Linked DNA regions of Homo sapiens. The protein of the gene in region 4 interacts with the protein of the main gene of each other region in a pairwise test. Each region holds a gene or a part of one and is shown on either strand. Other genes may lie near its edges.

Evidence for each region.
Region 1: the proteins of ICAM3 (region 4) and TSPO interact in binary tests that used the Homo sapiens proteins (3 or more experiments, as listed by UniProt).
Region 2: the proteins of ICAM3 (region 4) and CLDN4 interact in binary tests that used the Homo sapiens proteins (3 or more experiments, as listed by UniProt).
Region 3: the proteins of ICAM3 (region 4) and SMCO4 interact in binary tests that used the Homo sapiens proteins (3 or more experiments, as listed by UniProt).

What each region holds. Positions count from the first base shown.
Region 1 is NC_000022.11:43,147,246-43,154,561, reverse strand, and holds the start of TSPO (translocator protein), read right to left. Parts: upstream 3,004-7,316; 5' UTR 2,958-3,003; exon of another isoform or gene 1-2,957. UniProt on the Homo sapiens protein: Can bind protoporphyrin IX and may play a role in the transport of porphyrins and heme. Promotes the transport of cholesterol across mitochondrial membranes and may play a role in lipid metabolism, but its precise physiological role is controversial.
Region 2 is NC_000007.14:73,826,277-73,833,190, forward strand, and holds CLDN4 (claudin-4), read left to right. Parts: upstream 1-4,719; 5' UTR 4,720-4,925; coding exon 4,926-5,555; 3' UTR 5,556-6,414; downstream 6,415-6,914. UniProt on the Homo sapiens protein: Can associate with other claudins to regulate tight junction structural and functional strand dynamics.
Region 3 is NC_000011.10:93,477,956-93,484,410, forward strand, and holds the end of SMCO4 (single-pass membrane and coiled-coil domain-containing protein 4), read right to left. Parts: intron 1,330-6,455; coding exon of another isoform or gene 1,235-1,329; coding exon 1,055-1,234; coding exon of another isoform or gene 915-1,054; 3' UTR 517-914; downstream 1-516.
Region 4 is NC_000019.10:10,333,276-10,336,659, forward strand, and holds the end of ICAM3 (intercellular adhesion molecule 3 isoform 1 precursor), read right to left. Parts: intron 2,702-3,384; coding exon 2,396-2,701; exon of another isoform or gene 2,079-2,395; coding exon 1,791-2,078; intron 1,546-1,790; exon of another isoform or gene 1,508-1,545; coding exon 1,253-1,507; intron 1,134-1,252; coding exon 885-1,133; intron 785-884; coding exon 582-784; 3' UTR 501-581; downstream 1-500. Other genes in the region: RAVER1 (ribonucleoprotein PTB-binding 1), read right to left, coding at 14-232. UniProt on the Homo sapiens protein: ICAM proteins are ligands for the leukocyte adhesion protein LFA-1 (integrin alpha-L/beta-2). ICAM3 is also a ligand for integrin alpha-D/beta-2. In association with integrin alpha-L/beta-2, contributes to apoptotic neutrophil phagocytosis by macrophages.

The DNA.
Region 1 (7,316 bases), on a different chromosome or scaffold from region 4:
ACATGGTGAGACCCCGTCTCTACTAAAAATAAAAAACTAGCCTGGTGTGGTGGCGCACGTCTGTAATCCCAGCTACTCAGAAGGCTAAGGCAAGAGAATTGCTTGAACCCGAGAGGAGGAGGTTGCAGTGAGCCAAGATTACGCCACTGCACTCCAGCCTGGGCAACAGAGCAAGACTCTGTCTCAAAATAAATAAATAAATAAATAAAGCAAACAAAAAAAAAGAAGGCGACCCAGAAACACAATAAGGAATGTGTCCCTTCTCTGATCCCCACCCCGACCCCCAGCTGCACCCACTCCCCTGAGCCTTGTCTCTCCAACGAAGCCAGCACTGTCCCAGGGACTTGTTTTCAGGCTTTTTAAAAATGATTCATGGCTAATCGTCCTCATCGTAACCTTTGTGTGCATTTTTCATTACAAAAGTAACCAGTGAAACAGCCCACAGGTCTGGAAAAATCCACAGCGAACCTGGCCATCGAGTGGCCTGGGAGAGGGTAGGGTGAGGGTGGGGTATCCAGGGGGAATTGGTTCTGTTAAGAAAGACTACTTCCCTTTCCTTCGAGGTTCGGGGGTTAAACTTTTTTTTAGTAAAAAATAAAGAAACAGCCTGGCCGACATGGTGAAACCCATCTCTACTAAAAATATAAAAATTAGCCAGGCTGAGGCAGGAGAATCACTTCAACTCTGGAGGCGGAGGTTGCAGTGAGCCCAGCTGGAGCCACTGCACTCCAGCCTGGGCAATGGAGCGAGACACCGTCTCAAAAAATATATATATAAATAAAAATAAGAAATTAAGAATGACTTCCCTAGTGGTCTAGTGGTTAAAAAAAAAAATAAAAAAGACTACCGTTTTAAACAGAGAGCACATCCAAGCATTGTTTGCACCATCAAAAGTAAAGAAAACACAAATAAGCCGGGCGCGGTGGCTCACGCCTGTAATCCCAGCACTTTGGGAGGCCGAGGCGGGTGGATCATGAGGTCAGGAGATCGAGACCATCCTGGCTAACAAGGTGAAACCCCGTCTCTACTAAAAATACAAAAAATTAGCCGGGCGCGGTGGCAGGCGCCTGTAGTCCCAGCTACTCGGGAGGCTGAGGCAGGAGAATGGCGTGAACCCGGGAAGCGGAGCTTGCAGTGAGCCGAGATTGCGCCACTGCAGTCCGCAGTCCGGCCTGGGCGACAGAGCGAGACTCCGTCTCAAAAAAAAAAAAAAAAAAAAAAAAAAGAAAACACAAATAAGCCAGGAACAGTGGCTCATGCCTGTAATCCCAGCACTTTGGGAGGCTGAGGTGGGAGGATCGCTTGAGCCCAGGAGTTCTGCAGGAGACTGCAGTGAGCTATGATTGCATCACTGCACTCCAGCCTGCATACCAGAGTGAGACCCTGTCTCAAACAAACAAACAAAAACAAGAAAGGAAGGAAGGAAGGGGAAGAAAGAAAAAAAGAGAAAGAGAAAGGAAAGAAGGAAGGAAGGAAAGAAAGAAAGAAAGAGAAAGAAGAAAGAGAAAGAAGGGGTGGGAAGGGGAGGGGAGGGAGGGAGGAAGGAAGGACGGAAGAAAGGAAGAAAGCAAGCTAAAGTGAAAAGTAGGCTCCCTCCCTGCGAGCCCAAGCCCCTCACCCCAGCTGGAGAACCCGCTGTGAATACTTTCTGGTAGATCCAGCCAGACATCCTGCCTCACGCCAGGCACAAGTGTGTACAGACGACAGGACACAGCACATGTGCACACACACACTCCCAGGAAAGAAAGTGGTCCTCGGGGCACAGTGGAGAAGGCAGGCTGGGATCAGCCTGCACGGGTTCTGGCCCTGGCTCCACCGCGCCAGCTGCGTGACTCTGGACAAAGGCTTCTTTGGCAAGCCTCAGTTTCGCCGAACCTCCCTGTGGGGCTGCCAGCAGCCAGGTGGAGACTCAGGGGCCGCCTTCCCCTGCTGGGCTGAGGCTGGCTCTCCTGTCCTTGCCACACGGCCCCTTTCACCGCCAGTGGAAACCTGCCTCAGGCTGCCCTGTCCCGGGCCCCACCGACTCCACAGAGACGCCGGGCCTCGCCCACTGTTCTGGCAGTAGGCCTTCATGGGCAGGGCTTGCTGTGTGCCAGGCAAGCTGGGCGGCTGCTTCCTGTACACCACCTCCCCTGATATCCTCGCCCTGCCTGAGCCCATTCTGGGACAGCCTCAAGTCCTGTCTCTCCTGCCATCCAGCCCAGGGCACGCTGCTGGTATCCCGTAGCCCTGGCCCCTGGCAGGCTGGCCAGAGGGGCTCCAGGCCCACGCCAGGCCATGGCCTCTGGCAGCTGCCCTGGCCAGCAGCGCGTTCACAGCAGGAAGCCCCCGCTTCTCCTACCTGGGCTCCGGCTTCTTTGCAAGGGGTAGGGGAAGCAGACAGGTCCCAGAGGCTGCTCGGCTCACAGTAAGACCCGTCTAGGCTGCAACGCACCTGAGCCCCGCACTGGGAATCGAGGGCCAGGGGGCCTCTAACCGGCTTTGGGCAAAATAAACTTCCCCGATCTGGACTGTTCTCCACTACGAAACGGGGTGTCTCGGAGATCAAGAGCCCGAGGTCTCCCAGATATTCTGAGACCCTCAAGGGAGTTCCGCCTGGGATTGCCCATCCGCGGAATGGGCAGGAGAGGGAGCGTCGGCCACTCCTGGGACCGCGCTTCCTGCAGGAGAAGCCACGCGGCCAAGGGCTGGGCGTGGCAGGGTTGTCCAAGTTTTCCCTCCCGAACCCCCAGCCGGAGGCGGCCCGCGCTGGAACCCCGGCCGCGGAGGCCCAGACTCTGCTGCCCGCCGCCCCCTGACCCGGTAGCCGAGCCCCAAGTGCTGCCCCGGGTCGCCCCCTCGGGTGTCCAGTCTGCGGCTCCGGCCTCAGTTTCCCTCTGTCCCGCGGCGCTGCCAAGAGTCGCAGCCATGCGGGCCCCCACTTCCCGCTGCCCCCTCCGCGTCCCGTCCTCACTCACCAGCGGCGAGGGCACGCTCCGGGAAGGGCACTGCCTGGCAGGAGTTAGCCAGGCCGCTGTCCCCGCATCCGCCCCGCCCCTCCCAGCCGCCAGGCCCCGCCCCTCTCAGTCGCCCGGCCCCGCCCCGCCCCGCCTGGCAGCCCGGGCACTGGGCCCACTCGCGTCCCCGCGGGACCGGGAGCTCACTCCTCAAAGCCACCTCTCCCGCGGGACGCGCTTCTGCCTCCCCCCGGCCGCGAGCAAGTCTCTCGGCTCCTCCTCCTCCCCATGGTGACCGGTGACGGCCGCCCGGCCAGACCCAACATCTAAAACGTTGCCGTGTGTCCAACGGCGTGTCGTTTGTCGTCTCTTCTAGCCTCACTTTTCCCATCTATAAAATGCAGCAACAAGACCGATCTCCGAGTGGGGAATTACCTCTCCTGAGGCCAAGGCCCTGAGCGTCCTGCTGCCCAGCAGCCTTGGCCCCATTTCCGGAGCACCCCAGTTCCTTGAGCTGTTGACGCAGGGCACGGAGGCAGCGCGCTGCACTCTTAGTCCTGGCCCAGCCACTTTCTGACTGGCTCTCTGGGCCTCCATCTCCTCATCTGTAAAATGGGCACAAAGTCGTGGGACTGATGAGGCCGCAACGCGGTGATGCAGGCAGGACACCCCTCAGATGCTCGGCGCTCAGTGAGGGGAGGCTGCCATCATCACAGCCCAGAGGTGGCCTCCAGCTGCCCAGGTCCACTCCCATGCAGGGTGTGTCCAGCCCCAGGCCCTTGGCACTATGGCTGTCTTGCTGCAGTTCAAGGCTGTCCCAGCTCCCTCCAGACAACTCAGCCTGGCAACGCCCCATCAGCCTGAACCAGCCACGTTGGCCCAAACTGATCCTGCAGGGTCCAAGGAGAACTGTGGCTACTTCTACCCAGACACAGAAGCCAGGAGCCTCCTTGGGGACCAGCCAGGCTGCAGTATGGCTTTCCTAGGACCTGGCATTTTTGCCTTTGTGAGCCTCTTCCTCTATTAAAAAACAAACATACATAAATCTATTTTTTACTGTGTTGGCCTGAAGACAAGGATAACCCAGGCTTGGTTCCATTCTTCATTCATCTTTTTCTTCTGGGTTTCTTTTTTTTTTTTTTTGAGACGGAGTTTCGCTCTTGTCTCCTAGGCTAGAGTACAATGGCACAATCTCGGCTCACTGCAACCTCTGCCTCCTGGGTTCAAGTGATTCTCTCCTCCCTCAGCCTCCCGGTAGCTGGGATTACAGGCGCCTGCCACCATGCCCGGCTAATTTTTGTATTTTTAGTAGAGATGGGGTTTCACCATGTTGGCCAGGCTAGTCTCGAACTCCTGACCTGAAGTGATCCACTGCCTCGGCCTCCTAAAGTGCTAGGATTACAGGCGTGAGCCACCGCACCTGGCAGCTTTGTTTTTTTTTTTTTTTTTCTTTTTTAAAATTCCTTCTGGCCAGGCACGGTGGCTCATGCCTGTAATCCCAGCACTTTGGGAGGCCGAGGTGGGTGGATCACTAGGTCAGGAGTTCGAGACCAGCCTGGCCAACATGGTGAAACCCCATCTCTACTAAAAATACAAAAATTAGCTGGGCATGGTGGTGTGTGCCTGTAATCCCAGCTACTTGGAAGGCTAAGGCAGGAGAATCTCTTGAACCCAGGAGGCAGAGGTTGCAGTGAGCTGAGACGGTGCCACTGCACTCCAGCTTGGTGACAGAGCGAGACTCCGTCTCAAAAAAAAAAAAAAAAAATCCCTTCTTAGCCGGGCGTGGTGGCTCACACCTGTAATCCCAGCACTTTGTGAGGCCGAGGCCGGTGGATCACCTGAGGTCAGCAGTTCGCCACCAGCCTAACCAACATGGTGAAACCCAGTCTCTACTAAAAATACAAAAATTAGCTGGGCATGGTGGCAGGCGCCTGTAATCCCAGCTACTCAGGAGGCTGACACAGGAGAATCGCTTGAACCGGGAGGTGGAGGTTTCAGTGAGCCAAGATCACGCCATTGCACTCCAGCTTGGGTGACACAGTGAGACTCTTTCTCAAAAAAACAAAACAAAAAATAAAATAAAATAAAAATAAGACACACATGTGGCTGGTTGCAGTGGCTCACGCCTGTAATCCTAGCACTTCGGGAGGCCGAGGCAGGCAGATCACTTCAGGTCAGGAGTTGGAGACCAACCTGGCCAACACGGTGAAACCCCATCTCTACTAAAAATACAAAAATTAGCTGGGCGTTGTGGCGGGCACCTTTAATCCCAGCTACTCGGGAGGCTGAAGCATGAGAATCACTTTAACCCGGGAGGTGGAGGCTGCAGTGAGTCGTGATCACACCTCTGCACTCCAGCCTGGGTGATAAAGCAAAACTCAATTTAAAAAAAAAAAAAAAAACCACACACGTGTACACATTACAACAATAATACCAGGTGTGCCCATTCCCCAGTTATGACCAGAACATTACGAGAGTCCTAGGAGCGCCCTGGTGACCTCCCCAGCGATTCCTCCCCTCCCCAGAGATCACCTTTACTTTGACTTGGGTTGATCACGCCCTTGCTTTCCTTTAGGGTTTTATGAATCCCACCCGGGTGTGTTTCCCTGAGTACTATGTGTGCAGAGAGGCAGCACACCCCCAGCTGGGGCAGAACAGGCACCATGGCCAGGCCAGAAGACTCCCGGGAAGATAAACTCAGCTGAGCGCCTGGGGTACAGGCTGGGCCCGGCCTCTGTGGGCACTGACAAGAGGCCCCTCTGGGGCAGGCAGAGGGCATGGTTGTGGGTGGGGCTCCCCTGTGAGGACGTTGAGCACAGCTGTGGCATGCGCATTCAGCAGGAAATGGTCAGGGGCATGAGCTGTTCTGTCTCTTGCTTCTGAGCTCACAGTGCCCTGAGGAGTAGGGTGCTCAGACCTCAGGAGCAAGGTGAGGCCTGTCAGGTGAGCCATGTGTCCTCAGCAGACCCAGGCAGCAGGGCGAGAACAGGGCTTCCTCAGCCTGTGATAGGGACCAGTCAGGTGCAGGCAAGATTCTGGGCCAGCGTCAGGTGCAATGGCTCAAGCCTGTAATCTCAGCACTTTGGGAGGCCGAGGTGGGCGGATCACGAGGTCAGGAGATCAAGACAATCCTGGCTAACACGGTGAAACCCCGTCTCTACTAAAAATACAAAAAAATAGCAGGGTGTGGTGGCGGGCACCTGTAATCCCAGCTACTCGGGAGGCTGAGGCAGGAGAATGCTTGAACCCGGGAGGTGGAGGTTGCAGTGAGCCGAGATCATGCCACTGCACTCCAGCCTGGGCAACAGAGTGAGACTCTGTCTCAAAAAAAAAAAAAGAATCTGGGCCAAGCTTGTGGGGCATTCTGTACCTAAATGAGCAGCATGGCAGTAGGGATGTTGGTAATGCCAGCTCTCAACACATCTCAAGTCACGCTGCTCCCCGCTGGACAGGCTGCACAGGTCCAGTACACACACCATGCCCGGGTCTTTCTTCACCACCTCCGCCCCCTCCTGCATGGGTCCTTATTTCCTGGATTTCACATCTTCCTCTTTCTTGGTCCCCCCTTGCTTGTGTTGAGCCTATCCTCCAGGAGTTCTTGAGAAAGACTGCCCGGAAGGTAACATTGCTGAATTCTTGCATCCTACCCCATAGATGGCTGATGCTTGGCTGAGCTGCAGATCGTTGTCCTTCAGAATCATGAAGAGATGCTGTTGGCCAGCTGCCACACTGCGGTTGAGCAGGCTAAAGCCATTCTGTTTCGGAAGTCTTTGGTTGTTTTTTGTTTTGTTTTTATTTTTTTGTAGACACAGGGTCGCGCTATGTTGCTCAGACAAGTTTCCAACTCCTGGGCTCAAGCAATCCTGCTCCGGCCACGCTGTGGATCCTTTATATGTAACCGATTTTGTTCTTCCTGGAAAGTTTTTAAGATTTTGGGCCCCAGAGTTCTGCAGTTTCACACTGATATTCCCCTATGTGGGACTAATTTTTTTTTTTTTTTTTTTTTTTGAGACCATCTCACTCTGTAATCCAGGCTGGAGTGCAGTGGTACGATCTCGGCTCACTGCAACCTCTGCCTCCCGGGCTCAAGCAATTCTCCCTCAGCCTCCCGAGTACCTGGGACTACAGGCGAGCTCCAACACACCCAGCTTCATTTCCTCCACTGTGCCTGCACTCAACAGGCACTTTCCCGCTGGAAGCTCATTCTTTACTTTTCAGAAGTTGGATTATTTCTTTGATTTCCTTCCCTCTATTTTCTCACTTCTCTTTCTTTTCAAATTTATGTTGTGCAGCAATCACTTCCTTTCTGGAACTCCTATTACTCAGAATGTAGGGCCTCTAGGGCTGTTTTTCTAACTTCCTTTTTCTCTCTCTCTTTTT
Region 2 (6,914 bases), on a different chromosome or scaffold from region 4:
TTTGGGAGGCTGAGGAGGGCAGATCACTTGAGGCTAGAAGTTCGGGACCAGCCTGGCCAACATGCTGAAACCCTGTCTCTACTAAAACTACAAAAATTAGCTGGGCGTAGTGGCGAGCACCTGTAGTTCCAGCTACTCGGGAGGCTGAGGCAGGAGAATCGCTTGAACCTGGGAGGCAGAGGTTGCAGTGAACCGAGATTGCACCACTGCACTATAGCCTGGGTGACAGCGACATTCCGTCTCAAAAAAAGAGAACAAAACAAAACAAAACAAAACAACTGGGGACTTGGCCAAGCCCCTGGAACTCTGGGGACAGGGGTCTGAAAAGTCCTAGCTCCCACCTGTTATGATCAGGATCCGAACTGCGCAGCAGCTGCTTTGCGTACGGAACTTTGCTCCCTCCTCTTGTTATTAAACTTTTTGGCTCACAAAGCATTTTTACTTCCTTCTCTCATTTCATGTGTATCTCAGACTGGGGAGTGGGCCCCAGTGTTCTCATTGTACAAAGGAGGAAGTTGGGGCTCAGAGATGGAATTGGCTTCTCCAAGGTCACAGGGCTGGTAGGATGGCTTATGGATACACAGCTTCCCAGCTTTTGTCCTGAGCTTTTTGGCTCATGAAGCATTTTCACATCCCCATCTCATTTCACGTCTGTTTTTGTTTTTGATCCTGGAGGGGGTGCAACATCCTCATTTTTACAAAGGAGGAAGCTGTGGCTCAGAGATGGTTCCTGGGCTGGAAAGATGGTTTATGGGGTGGGCAGAGATGGGTGAGCTGATCTGGTGGTTTTTATCCTTGATAGAAACCAGCAGGTGTGGCCAGGCGCAGTGGCTCACGCCTGCAATCCCAGCACTTTGGGAGGCCGAGGCGGGCAGATCATCTGAGGCTGGAAGTTTGAGACCAGCCTGGCCAACATGCTGAAACCCTGTCTCTACTAAAACTACAAAAATTAGCTGGGCGTAGTGGTGTGCGCCTGTACTCCCAGCTACTCGGGAGGTTAAGCCATGAGAATTGCTTGAACCCGGGAAGTGGAGACTGCAGTGAGCAGAGATCGTGTTGTCTCAAAACAAAAAACAAACAACAAAAACAACAAAAAACAACAACAAAAAACAAAAAAAAGCACGTGATCCAATTCTGTCAGCACAAAATCACACAGTGCATGTTATAAAGAAGAAAAAGAAAATAAATGAGTGCCAACCCTGTACTCTCTGACCCCAAAACCAAGGTGATGAATGGCAGATGTCTTATAAGGTGTTCCTGTAAAAGATCTTCGGGCTTTGGGAAGAGGGCCAGATGCAGGCCTAGAGGTAAATTTCCTTGTTTTCCTCTGCCTTAGGGCTATGGGAGCTGGAGCGGAGAGGAGAGAAGCACCTTGCCTTTGCTGGTGTTTTTCCCGCAGCAGGTGGGTGGGACTGAGCCAACGGTCTCTTGGCATCAACAAAGCATCAACAAATCTCTCTCCAGCTCCACTTGTGCTGAGCTACTGGCTGATCCCCAAGGACATCCTTCTGGCCTCTCCTTCACACCTGGGTCCCCTAGCCCTGCGTGAGCTCTGTGCTTCTTCCCCTGCCCTGTGTCTGCTCTATGCCTGGAGCCTCTGTACCTGCCCTCTCCTCAACCCCCAACCCCTCCCTGCTCTCAGCTCCCGATACGCGTGGCTATGCCTGGGAGGGAAGGACAGCTTCTTAGGGCCACAGGTGGACTGTTGTAGGGCTTGCATGCTCCCCTCCCCCATGCCTGCTTCTCCAAGTGGCACTTGGCTGTGTCCCAGGAAAGCAAGGGCAGGAAGTGGCAGGGCGGGGGCCGGGGGCCGGGGGGGCAGGAGGCGGGCGGGGGGTTGGGGGGGGCAGGTTCTGGCCATCTGGCCAAGTCACGTGTCTACTCAGAAAGCTTGTTAAAGGCTACCTGGCTGGGACCACAGGTAAGAGGCACCTGGGGAAGGAGGCACCCATGCTGGAGTGCCCACCCGTCCTGGGCAAGGCCCTGGCCTTCTCTGGGCTTCAGTGTACTCCTTTGAGCCAAGGCAATAAAAGTCCCTGCCCTGCTGACTGGCAGGAGGCTGTGATGAGGTCATCTCCAGGAAAGCACTTATCGCCAATCATGATGTTACTTATCTCTGGTGTTATTCAGCCCATAGGCTCTGTGTGTAGAGGGAGCCTTGTAAAGAAAGCCCCAGGGAGGCGTGGTCTGGGCAGAAACCATCTCTGTTTGCTTTGGTGTGTGTGCCTATGATGGGGGTCAAGGTATAGGAGTGTGATTTGAAACTGGAGAATGCTTCGTTCTTTCCATCATCAAACATGTCTTTTTTTTTCTTTTTTTTTAGATGGAGTCTCGCTCTATCACCCAGGCTGGAGTGCAATGGCGCGATCTTGGCTCACCGCAACCTCCATCTCCCAGGTTAAAGCGATTCTCCTGCCTCAGTCTCCTGAGTAGCTGTGATTACAGGCGTGCGCCATCACACCCAGCTAATTTTTGTATTTTTTAGTAGAGATGGGGTTTCACCATGTTGGCCTAACTCCTGACCTCGTGATCTGCCCATCTTGGCCTCCGAAAGTACTGGGATTACAGGTGTGAGCCACTGCACCCGGCCCAAACATTTCTTTTTCTTTTCTTTTGAGACAGAGTCTTGCTCTGTTGCCCGTGGCTGGAGTGAAATGGTGCGATTATAGTTCACTGCAGCCTCAAACTCCTGGCCTTAAGCGATCCTCCCATCCTGGCCTCCCAAAGTGCTGGGATTATAGGCATGAGCCGCAGCAACCACTCCTCACATTTCTTGAGCATCTGTGATGTATCAAGCCAGATGCTGGGCACTGAGGTTGCAGAAGGCATTGTTCCTGTCTTCTAGGAGCCCCAGGCTAGCAGGGAAGACGGATGTGTATAGAGTTAACCACAATACCAGGCCTCAACTTCCCGTCTGTAACACAGGTGGACCATGCTAGATTGTCCCAGCCTGCCCTGTGCTTCATTAGCCGGTCAACAGATCCATCTCAAATACCTCCCATGGGTACTCACTGATTGCTTTAACCCAAACCATGGCACTCTTGAAGACTTTCCCTCAGGAAGCTCAAGGACTATGCATCCTTCTGGGTCAGAACTGGACACACAGCCACCAGTGCTGGACAATGGCGGCGGCTCAGGGACACACTGGAGCCCTGGCCCCTGCAGAGCTCCCAGCATGGTTGGGAAGAGAGATGCAAAATGACCACACGGCGGGTGAGGAGGAGCTCCCTCGGTGCGGCTGGGATGAGCCCTAGACACTCTCAATCACCCCCACGATGACCCCTTCCCAGAGGTCCCCTCAGTCATCTGCCCTGAACCAAGCTCTTCCTGATCCTAGACCCTCCACCCTCCCTCTATCTTCCAGGGCTTGGTGACATTCCAGGCAGAAATTTCTGACCCTTTTACTTTGGTCCCTCCCTCCCCAGCCCAGTCTCTGGTCAAACTGGATTCCTGGCTGTTCCCAGAACGAGCTGCCTTTCCCCACCTTGCCACCTCTGCCCTTGTTCTCTCTGCCTGAATGTCCTCCTTCACTAGCCTCGCTGCCTTGCACATCTCTCCTGAGGGCTGTCATCCCAGAATGAGCTGCATTTGTCCAGCCTGGCCCACCGTCTACCAGAACGTCCTCCTTCAGCCTGTCCCACTGCCTTGCAAAACTTTTCTGGGGGACCTGTTCACGATGCCTTCTGTAGCATACTCCAAGAATCCGGCGCCCCCTGGAGTTGTGCCACACAGCACCCCTTTGCAGTCAAGCTCCCTCAGCACCACCACCTCCACCCTGGAAGAGTTCCCCTTCCCTTTGAAATCTCATGGGACTTTGCACCCACTCTGGCTTTATTGGAAGGCTTTGTATGTCTCCACAGGGTAAACACCCATTTACTGGGGTGATGATGTCTCCAGGATCTAGTTCATGTTTGTCGTTGGTGACTGGCCCCACCCAGTTCTGGGCAAGCAGGCTGGATCCCGGCAGGAACAGAGCCCACCAGCCTAAACTTCCATGGAGGTGGAGAGGGGACAGGCTTCTGTCTCTTTTTGGCTGAAGGTGCATCATGTCCAAGGCCCCTCTTCTAGCCAAGCAGAGAAGCTGGGTGATAAGGATGGGTGAGAGTGGGTGATGTACCCCGGAGTCCTGGCCTCCCGGCTCCTCACTCCCCTACACGTAACTTTATCCGGCCAATGCCGCAAAGACTGCTGGTGAGGCCAGATGCATGAGTGATCATACTCACAACAGTCGTGAAACTGCCAGTGATGAAACTGGTAAGGACAAGAAATGACAATAATCAAGGTGGGGTTTCTCGTGGACGTTTCCAAGACTTCATTCTCAAATTCTCTCCCTCAGGGTCCCCACCCTGTCCTCCCACCTAAGCCTGGAATGAGGGGGCACTGGCCTGTGGGGACCCTGGTCTTCAGGCTCCCAAACCTGGCTGGGTCTGGTTGCCCCCTGGCCTTAACCTGTGAACATCCAGCTGTCCCTGGGCTGTGATTCAGTGTCTGTCTCCCGGGTGACCTCAGCATGGGCTTTGAGGAAGGGGAGAGAGTAGTTTCTTCTGAGACTGGATAGTGACTCAGGGACCCGGGGCTGGGGCCTCAAAAGTGCCTTTGTTGGCCTGGGCTCAGGAATCCAGAGAAACTGGTCAGGAGGAGGCCCCAGTGACAAAAACCCCTCCCTCTGCCCCCGCCCCTCTGCCAGAGCCATATAACTGCTCAACCTGTCCCCGAGAGAGAGTGCCCTGGCAGCTGTCGGCTGGAAGGAACTGGTCTGCTCACACTTGCTGGCTTGCGCATCAGGACTGGCTTTATCTCCTGACTCACGGTGCAAAGGTGCACTCTGCGAACGTTAAGTCCGTCCCCAGCGCTTGGAATCCTACGGCCCCCACAGCCGGATCCCCTCAGCCTTCCAGGTCCTCAACTCCCGTGGACGCTGAACAATGGCCTCCATGGGGCTACAGGTAATGGGCATCGCGCTGGCCGTCCTGGGCTGGCTGGCCGTCATGCTGTGCTGCGCGCTGCCCATGTGGCGCGTGACGGCCTTCATCGGCAGCAACATTGTCACCTCGCAGACCATCTGGGAGGGCCTATGGATGAACTGCGTGGTGCAGAGCACCGGCCAGATGCAGTGCAAGGTGTACGACTCGCTGCTGGCACTGCCGCAGGACCTGCAGGCGGCCCGCGCCCTCGTCATCATCAGCATCATCGTGGCTGCTCTGGGCGTGCTGCTGTCCGTGGTGGGGGGCAAGTGTACCAACTGCCTGGAGGATGAAAGCGCCAAGGCCAAGACCATGATCGTGGCGGGCGTGGTGTTCCTGTTGGCCGGCCTTATGGTGATAGTGCCGGTGTCCTGGACGGCCCACAACATCATCCAAGACTTCTACAATCCGCTGGTGGCCTCCGGGCAGAAGCGGGAGATGGGTGCCTCGCTCTACGTCGGCTGGGCCGCCTCCGGCCTGCTGCTCCTTGGCGGGGGGCTGCTTTGCTGCAACTGTCCACCCCGCACAGACAAGCCTTACTCCGCCAAGTATTCTGCTGCCCGCTCTGCTGCTGCCAGCAACTACGTGTAAGGTGCCACGGCTCCACTCTGTTCCTCTCTGCTTTGTTCTTCCCTGGACTGAGCTCAGCGCAGGCTGTGACCCCAGGAGGGCCCTGCCACGGGCCACTGGCTGCTGGGGACTGGGGACTGGGCAGAGACTGAGCCAGGCAGGAAGGCAGCAGCCTTCAGCCTCTCTGGCCCACTCGGACAACTTCCCAAGGCCGCCTCCTGCTAGCAAGAACAGAGTCCACCCTCCTCTGGATATTGGGGAGGGACGGAAGTGACAGGGTGTGGTGGTGGAGTGGGGAGCTGGCTTCTGCTGGCCAGGATAGCTTAACCCTGACTTTGGGATCTGCCTGCATCGGCGTTGGCCACTGTCCCCATTTACATTTTCCCCACTCTGTCTGCCTGCATCTCCTCTGTTCCGGGTAGGCCTTGATATCACCTCTGGGACTGTGCCTTGCTCACCGAAACCCGCGCCCAGGAGTATGGCTGAGGCCTTGCCCACCCACCTGCCTGGGAAGTGCAGAGTGGATGGACGGGTTTAGAGGGGAGGGGCGAAGGTGCTGTAAACAGGTTTGGGCAGTGGTGGGGGAGGGGGCCAGAGAGGCGGCTCAGGTTGCCCAGCTCTGTGGCCTCAGGACTCTCTGCCTCACCCGCTTCAGCCCAGGGCCCCTGGAGACTGATCCCCTCTGAGTCCTCTGCCCCTTCCAAGGACACTAATGAGCCTGGGAGGGTGGCAGGGAGGAGGGGACAGCTTCACCCTTGGAAGTCCTGGGGTTTTTCCTCTTCCTTCTTTGTGGTTTCTGTTTTGTAATTTAAGAAGAGCTATTCATCACTGTAATTATTATTATTTTCTACAATAAATGGGACCTGTGCACAGGAGGAAATTTTATTGTCTCTGATTTCAACTGTGGAGGTGGGTGGGGAAGGGCTGGAGGCCTGGGTGCGGGGGTGGGGGGGGTCAGTCAGGGGCAGGACCACTGTGTTTTGGCCGGGACATAAACACTTAAAAAAAAAAAAAAAAAACGAGATCCAGGGAATTGTGAAAAATTGGAGCTGGGCCGGGTGCGGTAGTGAGCACCTGCAATCCCAGCACTTTAAAAGGTCGAGGTGGGAGGATCGCTCGAGGCAGGAGTTTGAGACCAGCCTGGGGAACATAGTGGCACCATCTCTACAAAAAGTTAAAAAAATTAGCTGGGTGTGGTGGCTCATGCCTGTAATCCCTGTACTTGGGGAGGTCGAGGTAGGCGAATTGCTTGAGCCCAGGAGTTTGAGGCTGCAGTGAGCTTTGATCGCACCACTGCACTCCAGCCTGGGTGACAGGGCGAGACCTTATCTCTTAACGAAAAAAAAAAAAAAATCGAAACGGGCCTCCAAGGTATCACCT
Region 3 (6,455 bases), on a different chromosome or scaffold from region 4:
ATCCTCAGAACAGTAACCATGAATCTGACTTCCAAAAAGAGGCTGCTCCATCAGGAACCAGGACCGCCTGAGCAGTGCTGTTAGAATAAAATGAGGCAACCATTCCAGCCAATTTGCATTGAAAACTCAGCTGGAATGCCAACAATTTGCATCCTTTCAGCTAAGAACAAAACCAAGCCTGACCTTTACTTCCAGGATCACTCTGTATTGCTGTTTGCACAAACATACCGAGTTGAAGTAGGAAAAACTAACTGGTGTAAAAAGCACCTGTCGTCACAGTCTAATTAGAACTCTCACTTTCTAAAGCAAGCCAATTAATATACCCTTTCTGTCCCTCTCCATCTTAAAATTATCGGTCAAAAAGCATAATTTTACTCAGAAATGATGAGCAGAGGGAGTGCTGGGGAAGGTGGAGAGAGCCACAGGAGAAAGGGAAGGGGAGGGAAGAGGGGCAGACCCGTGGGCAGGGGGAGACCCACAGACAGCACCTCCTTGCAAAACATGATAAGCATCCAGTTTAAGGCTATTATCTCCTTTATTCAAAAAATAAATATTTCACTTTGATTCAACATATTTCAAATCACATTAAGCACAGAGAAGAAATACAGTCCCTTTGGAGATTGTGAACACGTGTTGGAAAGAAGCATGATCCAAACAATGGGAATGAGGTGAGTGTGGATTCCAGCTGTTTCCTGACCCAGAGGTTCCATCCCTCTTCAGGTGGAGCTACTTATCGATTTTTAGGAGAGAAAAAGAAGCACACACACACACACACACACACACACACACACACACACATGCGCGCGCGCTTTGAAGTCTGAAAGGCACATGAAGTGGACCATAAGGTGTATGGCACATTCACTGATAAAACATCCCCTATTCCCTCCCAAGAAAGCGGAGATACTTTAATCAAGTCAAAGACCAGAGAAGACAGGGTGCTCCTGCTTACAGCTCAGCAACATGAACATCTCTGAATATGAAAGCCATTTTTTGTTTGCGTCCCCCTCCCGCGCCTCCTCTCCCTGCCGATGGGGTCCGCAGCCGGCTGCGGGGCTCACTCGGTGATGGTGGGGCGCGTGGCCACGTACACAAACACCACGATCAAGAGCACGACCACGGCCAGCGTGGGCAGCACCACTGTAGTGATCTGCTGCCGGGCCTCCTGCATGGCTTGCTTCCGCTCCTTCTTGTCCTTGGAGGTCTCCTTCTTGGGCTTCCCTTTGAGCTGCCGCATCTTTCCTAGAGGATGCTAGGAGGGTGTGTCCAGAGGGATTCCAGGAAGGGCCACACTCCTCTTGCCAAGGCTGGAACCTCCTGTAGAGAGAACAACTGTGATAGTAGAGAATAAACCAAATAGAAGAAAAAATAAATCACTTAAAGGCAAATACACAACTAGGAAAAATATCTGCAACTTACATGACAAAGGGCTAAGAACAGAGGCCACACCAGGCTCTAAGTTCTCTTGGGATCAGCGCTCTAAGTAGTGGGCACTGGGTCACCGGTGTGCTGTGAGAGGGGCCTCCGCTCCAGCGCCAGCTGGACAAAGCCCTGGGTACCAGACAAATAATACTGTGTTCTGTACATGCCATGAGGTGAAAGGATTGGGAAGCACCAACTACGCCGCCTCCACTCAGAGGAGCGGCTCTCCCTTTCGTGGCTCTAGCTACTTGCTTTCCTGCTCTAAGTTCCATGATCTCCCCAGCCCATCTCCAGCATGGAACTGCAGGCAGCCTGCAGTCTCCAGGCACGTAGCCCCCTTCCTGCCCAAGCCAGGCCAGCCTCATTAAGGCTGCAGAGAGCCCACAGGCATCAACTTCTCTCATCTCTTTGTTGGTTCCTTGGCCCATTCATCCAAACCTTCCCAAGCACCCACCGTGTGCCAAGCATTACTCAAGGAGCTGAGGATAGAGATGAAGGACTCAGTTGTGTCCCCACAGAGGTCACCGTCTAGGGGGCATGATGGAGACCCGGGTCACAGTAATAATGAAGGGAGACGGCTGAGCCCACAGTCCTGCCACCCACTCAACCTGGGATTCTCCTGTTAATTCTGTAGCTCACGGAGGTGCCTAACAGGTGAAGTAGAACTTTCAGGGGCCAGAAGAATGAATACAAATGTTTGGATAACTACAGAGGAACATCTCTATAAAAGTCGGCTTCTTAGCTTTAAGCAGATGAAGCAGACTTCAGCTGATTTAAATCGAGTTTACTTAAAGGCCTTTGGCATCTCACTGATTCCCAGAAAAGCCAAAGAACCAGGCTCAGAAAATGGGCAGGACATTATGCTGTGCTGCCATAACTGGAGCCCAACTCACACTCCCAGTGTGAGGATGCCAGAGCCTGCATCACCACCGTCAGCACTGGACATGGGCACTGGAGCAGGAGGTGCCGAGCCACCATGACCACCCCCAAAAACTAGATGTGGCTGCTGGCACAGTCTCCAGATGAACTCGCCACCCCCCAGCATTCTGCATCACCAGCTTCCATGCATGTGTGACTAGCCAAGCCCCGGCCCATATGCCCACAGCCTAGCCTTCCAATTTGTACAGCAGGAAGAGTACTTTTCAAACACAGTGACGGAGTGGGGTTGGGTATCAGGGCTATATCAAAGGCAGATGTCCATTACAATATTCTCGGAGAGTAGCATGGAGTGAGGGGTTCTTGGAAGCAGAAGAGCACTGAATACCAATGTTCCTCTAGCAGAGGGACCTATGCTGTATACTGTCTGCCCTGTTTTGTCCCAGGGTAGTGGGTGGCCTGTCATCATCTTGAGGAGGAAGATGACATTTACACCTAAGTGACCGAGGTGGTAGAATGTGAACTCAGAGTTGGGAAAGGTCTTACTGACACCATCCTGTTTTTATGAGGGATACTTAATCTCTTACCATTCCTCTCACTCCATTTAGACCCCAAAACCTTTTTTGTATCATTCAAAATCAGGCAGAGTTTCCTAAGGTATGAGATGACAAATATTATTGTGCTAGGATGGCATAATGCCAATCAAAAGCAAACATTAAGGTTCAGCAAATATTAAGGGAAGCGCCATTTGGGCAAATGTATAATTTCCTTCATGAAATAAGGAACAGAGAGAAAAAAAAAAACACCTACTATTACTTTCTTAAGGCCTGAAAGGTATAGGAACCCCTGGCTTTACCAATTCTCCTTTTCAAGTCTTCCAAAGGACTTCCAGGCAGACTTGCCTTCAAATCCAGGACCAATCACTTACAGGCTAAATGGCTTTGAGCAAGTCACTTAACTCCACTAGGCCTCCATGCCATCATCTGAACAATGAGAACAGCTTGTCTTAAAGGATGACTGTGAGAATCTGGAAAACAAATGCATCTGTACCCAGAGCTCTGCCCGCCCGCAGGGACGCGGTACAGGTGGGCTGAGACATCTCCACCCATACCCGTGGGCGGCCCAGGGACGGGTGCACTGAGCTCCTCTAAGCCTGACTGCAGCCTTGAGTGATGCCCACCTTCGCGGGACCGTGGTGAGGATGGAGTAGGAAGCTGTATAACTCAGGGCTTGGCACAGAGCGGGCGGCGAATTCGTGCTAGCTGACATACCAACACCTGGAACACACCCCAACGGCCCTGTGAGTCAGACAGACAGGCTTTATTATCCCCATCACGGAAGGGAGGAAACCAAGGAGCAAAGGGGAAAAATGTCTTGCCAACAGTCACCCAGTTTGTAAATACCCCATGGCTTCTAACAGAGCAATGGACAGCATTCCTGTTCAAAGCTGCAAATGGCAGCCTATTCTCTCCGACACGGCCTCAAAAAAATTGTTTAAAAAGAAACAAGCCATTAGCAGCACTCTGATTCGTGGCCATTTCCTTGTGGAGCTAATGGCCTGTCGGAGCCCGCTGCTGTCTCTCCCAAATTCCTCACAGGACTGGCAGGTGGCACCCCAGGCCTGGGGCTAGCCATGCCCTGGCTGGCTGGCTAGCAGTGCTGGGCCTGACTTCCCTCCTGCACTTCATGCTGCTGTCTGCATCCACCCACACAAGTGTAGTTGACATTCAAAGGCCCCAGCCTCCACAATGACCAGTTCTCAACATTTGTAAGATGCATTCAGAAGTTCCTGGAGGCATGGAAAAAAGCCTCAAGCTGCTGGGGCCAGGGCCGGTCTGGTCAGGATTTAAAGGGCAAACATGCCCGTCTGAATCCTGGGTACTTCATCAGGCTTCAGGAGGAGCAGCGTCTCTGCTCTCACTCACCTGTGAGCTGGGGCAGCAAGGGAAAGCATCTCTGAGATAACGACTGGGGAGGGGACCCTATGGTGAAAAGGGACCAACCAGGAAAAAAGCTGGGAAGAGCACCAGGCAGAGGGCAGAGTGGCCTGAGCCAGGGAGGGCATGGGCACTGGGGAAGGGCGGACTCAAGAAGCGCATTGAGTGCTCTGCATGTGAGGATGCTTCTTAGACATCGTCATGGAAATAATATCAAGGAGGCAATTGGATAAATGAGTCAGGAGCTGGGTCTGGGCTGAAGATCTGTATTTGGAAGTCATCAACTATTGGATTAAGAGAGATCATGTCCAAGGCAGGCAGAGAAAGGGCCCAGGACTGAGTCCTTTCACCCTGACAGCTACAGGGCAGGAAGGGGAAGAGCAAGCATGGGGTACTCAGAGAAAAGGAGTGAGGCAAAAGAGAACGTGCTGTCGTGGGGACCAAGACAGTCAAGAAGGTCAACTGTGAGAAGACAGAGGCATTTGTGCCAGAACATAAGCGAACGCACTGCTTCCTTCCTCGGGAATATTTGGCCAGGGAAAAACTGTCAGTGGCACGTGCTCAGTGCAGAGCTGGCTGACACTCTGCTGCAAGCCCCTCTGTCTTCCGGTAGCTTGTGATGACGGGTCTGCATGCCAGCACGCCAAACAGCACCAGGGCAGAAAACTGCTTTGAAGTTTTGTGGGAAGAATGTGTGTGGCCAAAATGGTTTTTCTTTCTTTTTCTTTAAATAATAAGCGAAACTAGAGAATGATGTTTGAGGGGTCTAATAGAATGGGAGAAAACCCTGACACTGAAAAAAGAAGAGGTCTCTGTAGGAGCAAGACAAGAAGCTGAATGGACAGACCTGCCTTCGAGAGGCAAAGGACCCTTTGAACTCAACAAGAGGAGGTAGGAAGATGGCACTGGGGGCGAGGGGTGGCTCCGTACTGTGAGGGTTGGGGGACTAAAGGCTTCTGTTTTTTTCAATGAAATAGGAGAAGGTTTCAGCTTAAAGTCTGGGAAGTTGGGAGGCAGACTCAGGGAAAGAGAAATCAAGAAGCAATCACTTTTGGAGGGTGGAAAGGCCACCACAGAGCACTGTCCATGCCCGCCTCCCTCTGGGCTAAGGATCGCCTCACCATGGCTCTGGGCCCAGGGGCTGCACCGGGCGGCCTCCTGGGCCAGGGCTGGCTCAAGCACATCTGCTAGGACCTCTGAAATGTGGGCTTGCCTAAAGGAGAAGCTGGGCCAACTGGCCTCTACTTCAAGAATCTAAGAGACATGAATGGACACTGAAGTTGGACAATCACACAGTTGTAGTCACCAGGGAAGCCAGGTGGGAGAGAGGCCTGGGGGTGGAGGGAGCACTCCAGAGAGGCCACAAGAGAAGCCTCCACACTCTCCTCCTTCTAGTCGAGTCCCCTGTGAGGCCAGCTCTACACAGGTTCCTGTCCTCAGGGTACTCCGACGTGTCTCTGTATGTGATGAACGCCTCTTTCAACTTTGGCTGGCTCCAAGGGGTCTCTGTCCCTTACACTGGAAAGAGCTCTGCCTAAAATGACTGCTCCAGTTTCACAAGGAAGAATCCAAGGCCCTGCCACTGACACAAAAGAAAGGACTGGCAGAGTCAAAGGTCAAACCCACATCTGTGACTCTGAAGCCTGGACAGTCCCCACCTTCCTGGGTGTACCCCACTTATCTTCCCGCCCTTCGCCCACTTTGTGCCCCCATCATGGTTCAGCAGCCCCTTGCAGAGAGAAATAAATGAAGCTCACACGCTCAGCCTGGCTTCTGCCCAGCAAGCAGCTCAGGCAGGATGGAAGCTGCAGCCTCCAGCTTCTCAAATGCCAGTGCCCCACGGCCTCTAGCTTCCCTAACCAGGGAAACGGAAACTTCACAAATGCCTGAGTTCTACTAATTCTAATGAAACTCCACCTGCTATGCTCCTACCCCCCACCAGCACACACCCACGGCAACCGGTCAGCATGGGGACACTCCAAATGGTCCCCAGTATGTGTGGGCAGGAGACCAGAGGCAGAGAGGAGGAAAGCAGGGACGCATTCTTCAGCACAGAATTGTTTGTGATTTTTTTTCTGTGATTAGAACTTTCCCGTCTTTTCCTACTTATGTATATAGATATGCATGTATGCACACATGCTAACTTCTTATATGCACTTTTCTCCGATTTGGAGATTATAATGTACACAGAGTGTTAGATCCTATTAAGGAATGGTAGGAACA
Region 4 (3,384 bases):
CCCCCCCCAATACCTGGTTGGTCACGTCCCCCGGGAGGCCCCGGATCAGTATCTTGCGGCGGTTACGGAACTGGCGCTCGGTGTGTTCCAGGCGTTTCCGGATCTCTTCTGGATCTAGAGGCGGCAGCTCTTCTTCCGGCGCCCGGCGCTCCGCGGCATCGCCGGCTTCGACTTCGGCCCCAGACTTAGGGCTCAGCGGGGGCCGGTGAGTAACGGACACGTCCGCCGCCATCTTGGGAAACCCGGCGCCTTCTGGGACCAGCGAGCCGGGGCGGAGCGGCATAGAGCGGCAACGAGGGCGCGCCCGTCGATTGGCTGGGAGAAACCCCACCTCCTTCCCGCCCCCCTTGCCCCGTTGGCTAAGCCCCAGCCCACCTCTCAAGAGTTCAAGCTGCGTCTGCGCGCCACAGGCCCCGCCCCCTTCCGTCGCAGCGACGCTACTCAGTGGATGTGCACCTGGGTGGGAGAGACTTGCAGCGCGGGTGGAATCAAACCACAGATTAGGGAGTTTGAAGGCTTTATTGGTGCGGAATCTGAGGGCACAGCCAAGCCCCCGCCAACTTTGATCCCGGATCCCAGCGTCACTCAGCTCTGGACGGTTCTTCCCCCATTGCTTCTGTCGGCTGCATAGACGTGAGGGGCAGATAGGTGCTCTCCTCCCTAACATGGTAACTGCCGCTCCGTTGGTGCTCCCTGAAGACGTACATTAAGGCCAGTACGATAGTCACCACGCCCAGGGTCAGTAACACCGCCACGAAGACGGGGACAAAGTGGGAGCTCCCAGCTGTGCAGAGAAAGCGCTAAGTCAATATGCGTCCCTTCTGTCTCCAACCCCCCCGCCCCCCGGCTTACCGGTCCAGACCCGCAGCCCCGTGTTAGCTCACCCTCAATGTCCATCACCACGACCAGGGTGTATTTGCCTCGTGAGCTGGACGCTTGGCACTGATAAGTACCATTATGTGTTACGTTGACGAAGAACGGGATCCCCACCGGCACCTCCCGGCTGGAGCCTTCCTTCAAACACCGCAGCTCGGGGTACGGGTTGCCCCTGGCTTGGCACTGCAGGACGTGTCTCGTTTTATCTTTCCATTTCAAGTGCTGGGGGCATGTGGCTCGGTCAATTTTGGGACCATCTGTGGAACCACCATGTGTGATCAGACACCCAACACACCCGAGGCACAGTGGTGCAGAGGAGCGTCTAATCTTTCCAGGGCAGGGGTGGAGGGATTAAAGGTCAGGGTGACCGACTCACACAGGACTCGCAGCTGGACGCTACTGTTCCTGTGCAAGAACTCGCCGTCCACCTCGAGAGTGGCACTGCAGAAGAAGCTGCGTCCGTCGTCACTCTCGGTAGCATTTAGCTGAAGTTGAGCTGGCTGCCCCGGGGCCGCGGCCGGAACTCCGTCCAGCGTGACCTGGACTCGAGCCCCAGCCATGCAACTCACGGTCACTGTGGACCCCTCATGGGCGGTGGGCTCGCTGAGGTTCACAATGGGTCCTAGGAAGCCTAAAGGCGGGGCATTGCCCAGGAGCTTAATGAACAGGACCTTCCTGTGGGTCAAGCCGCTCCCTCCGCCCTCCCCTTTCCTCTCGGGATATCCGGGCCACGCTTTCGGCCGTTCAAGCCTCGCCCTCTTTCCGCGCTGTGTCCAGCTTCGGGCACTCAGGCCCAACCCACGTTGCAACTGCTATTGGGGCAAGCCAGGCCCCACCTTTTCGGCTAGTCTCCGCCCCCTCTGCCACGCCCCCAGACTGCTGAGGCCGCGCCCCCTTCCCACGCCTCCTCTTACTAAAGACCGTCAAGTTCTCCCGGGCCTCCCGTCTCTCGCCCCCTAGGGTCACGTTGCAGACGATCTCCCGGGCACCCTCCTGATCCGCGCGCGCCGTGGCTGTGGCTGTGGCCGTTAGCGTGTCCCCGTGGTTCATGACTGTCGCATTCAGCATCTGGTCCCCCAGCGCCAGGTAGACCTGGGCCTCTGAGGCTGGAAAAAGCCCGTCTAGGGTGCAGTCCACCGGCCACGACGTTTCCACCTCCAAGAACCGGGGGGCCACGAGGCGCGGGGGGGTCACGGGCAGGACTGGGGAGAAAGGTGGGCATAGTACAACCCCCAGGACTGTGCCTTCCCCAGGACACCCTCATCCCCCCCAGTCAGGATATCTTGCTGACTGGGTCACCCTTCTTCACAGGACACACACACAGGGCCATGAAAACGGCCTTCTTCAAAGATCCCACGGCTCGGGCCTCCCTTCCGGGGCCACCTTGCCCAGTGGCCGGGGGCTTTCCTTCCCAGAAGCCTGTGAGGTCCGGGGTACCCCACTCTCAGGAACCCCAAGGTCAGGGCACCGTCTACCCTGGCTCAGCTCGTCACCCACCGTCTGAAGCCCCTTCTCTCACCAAAGGTTCGGAGCTGGCGGGGGGCTGAGGTGTTCACGAACAGTCCCAGCCCCTGGGGCTGCATGTCCAGTTCTGTGCGGCATGAGAAAGGGGCTCCGTGGTCGTCTCTGCTGGCCAGCACAGTGGCAGTGACCTCCGCTGGCTCCTCCACTGCGGGCTGCCGGCTCAGCTCCTCCTCCCAGCGAAGCAGCACCACCGTGAGGCTGGTCCGGGGCGACCCATCCTCCACTTGGCAGCGCAGGGTGAAGTTCTGGCCCACCGGCTGCCAAGGAGGCAGGGGTGCCAGCTCCACACGCTCCGGGAGCCCTGAGAGAGGAGGGGAGGATGGCACTTAGCGGGTCCTGCAAACCCACCCACTCACCCCAGGGACTGGGGAGGAGACAGGGTGGTCCTGCCGAGAACTGTGAGCTTTGAGTTAATAAACTTAGAGGGCTTAGAGCTGGGCCAGTCGAAGCGTTTGCTATTATCATTAGCGCAGTGATTATCATTTCCTGTGTTGTCAGATACCTTGCAAGGCGCTAAACAAAACTTTCTGTTCTCAAAGATGGCACAATAAAAAAAAATGAGGATGGAAGGGATGAACGTTTATGACTATGATATGAATATTAAAAATTCCTGTTTATGGCCAGACGTGGTGGCTCACGCCTGTAATCCCAGAGCTTTGGGAGGCCGGGGTGGGTGGATCAAAAGGTCAGGATTATTCAGTTCTCTCCAATCAGGTTCAGACACTCAGGGCTTTCCTGGTTCACCAGCCCTGTGGCAGCCTCTCAAGATACTCCGGCACAGTCACAGGAGACTTGACACTCCCAGGCTGGGTGCCCTCCCCAGTACACCTACAAAACGCTGGGCCTCAGGCCGGGCACTGTGGCTCATGCCTGTAATCCCAGCACTTTGGGAGGCCAAGGTGGACGGATCACCTGAGACCAGGAGTTCAAGACCAGCCTTGCCAACATGGTGAAACCCCATCTCTACTAAAAATACAAAAATTA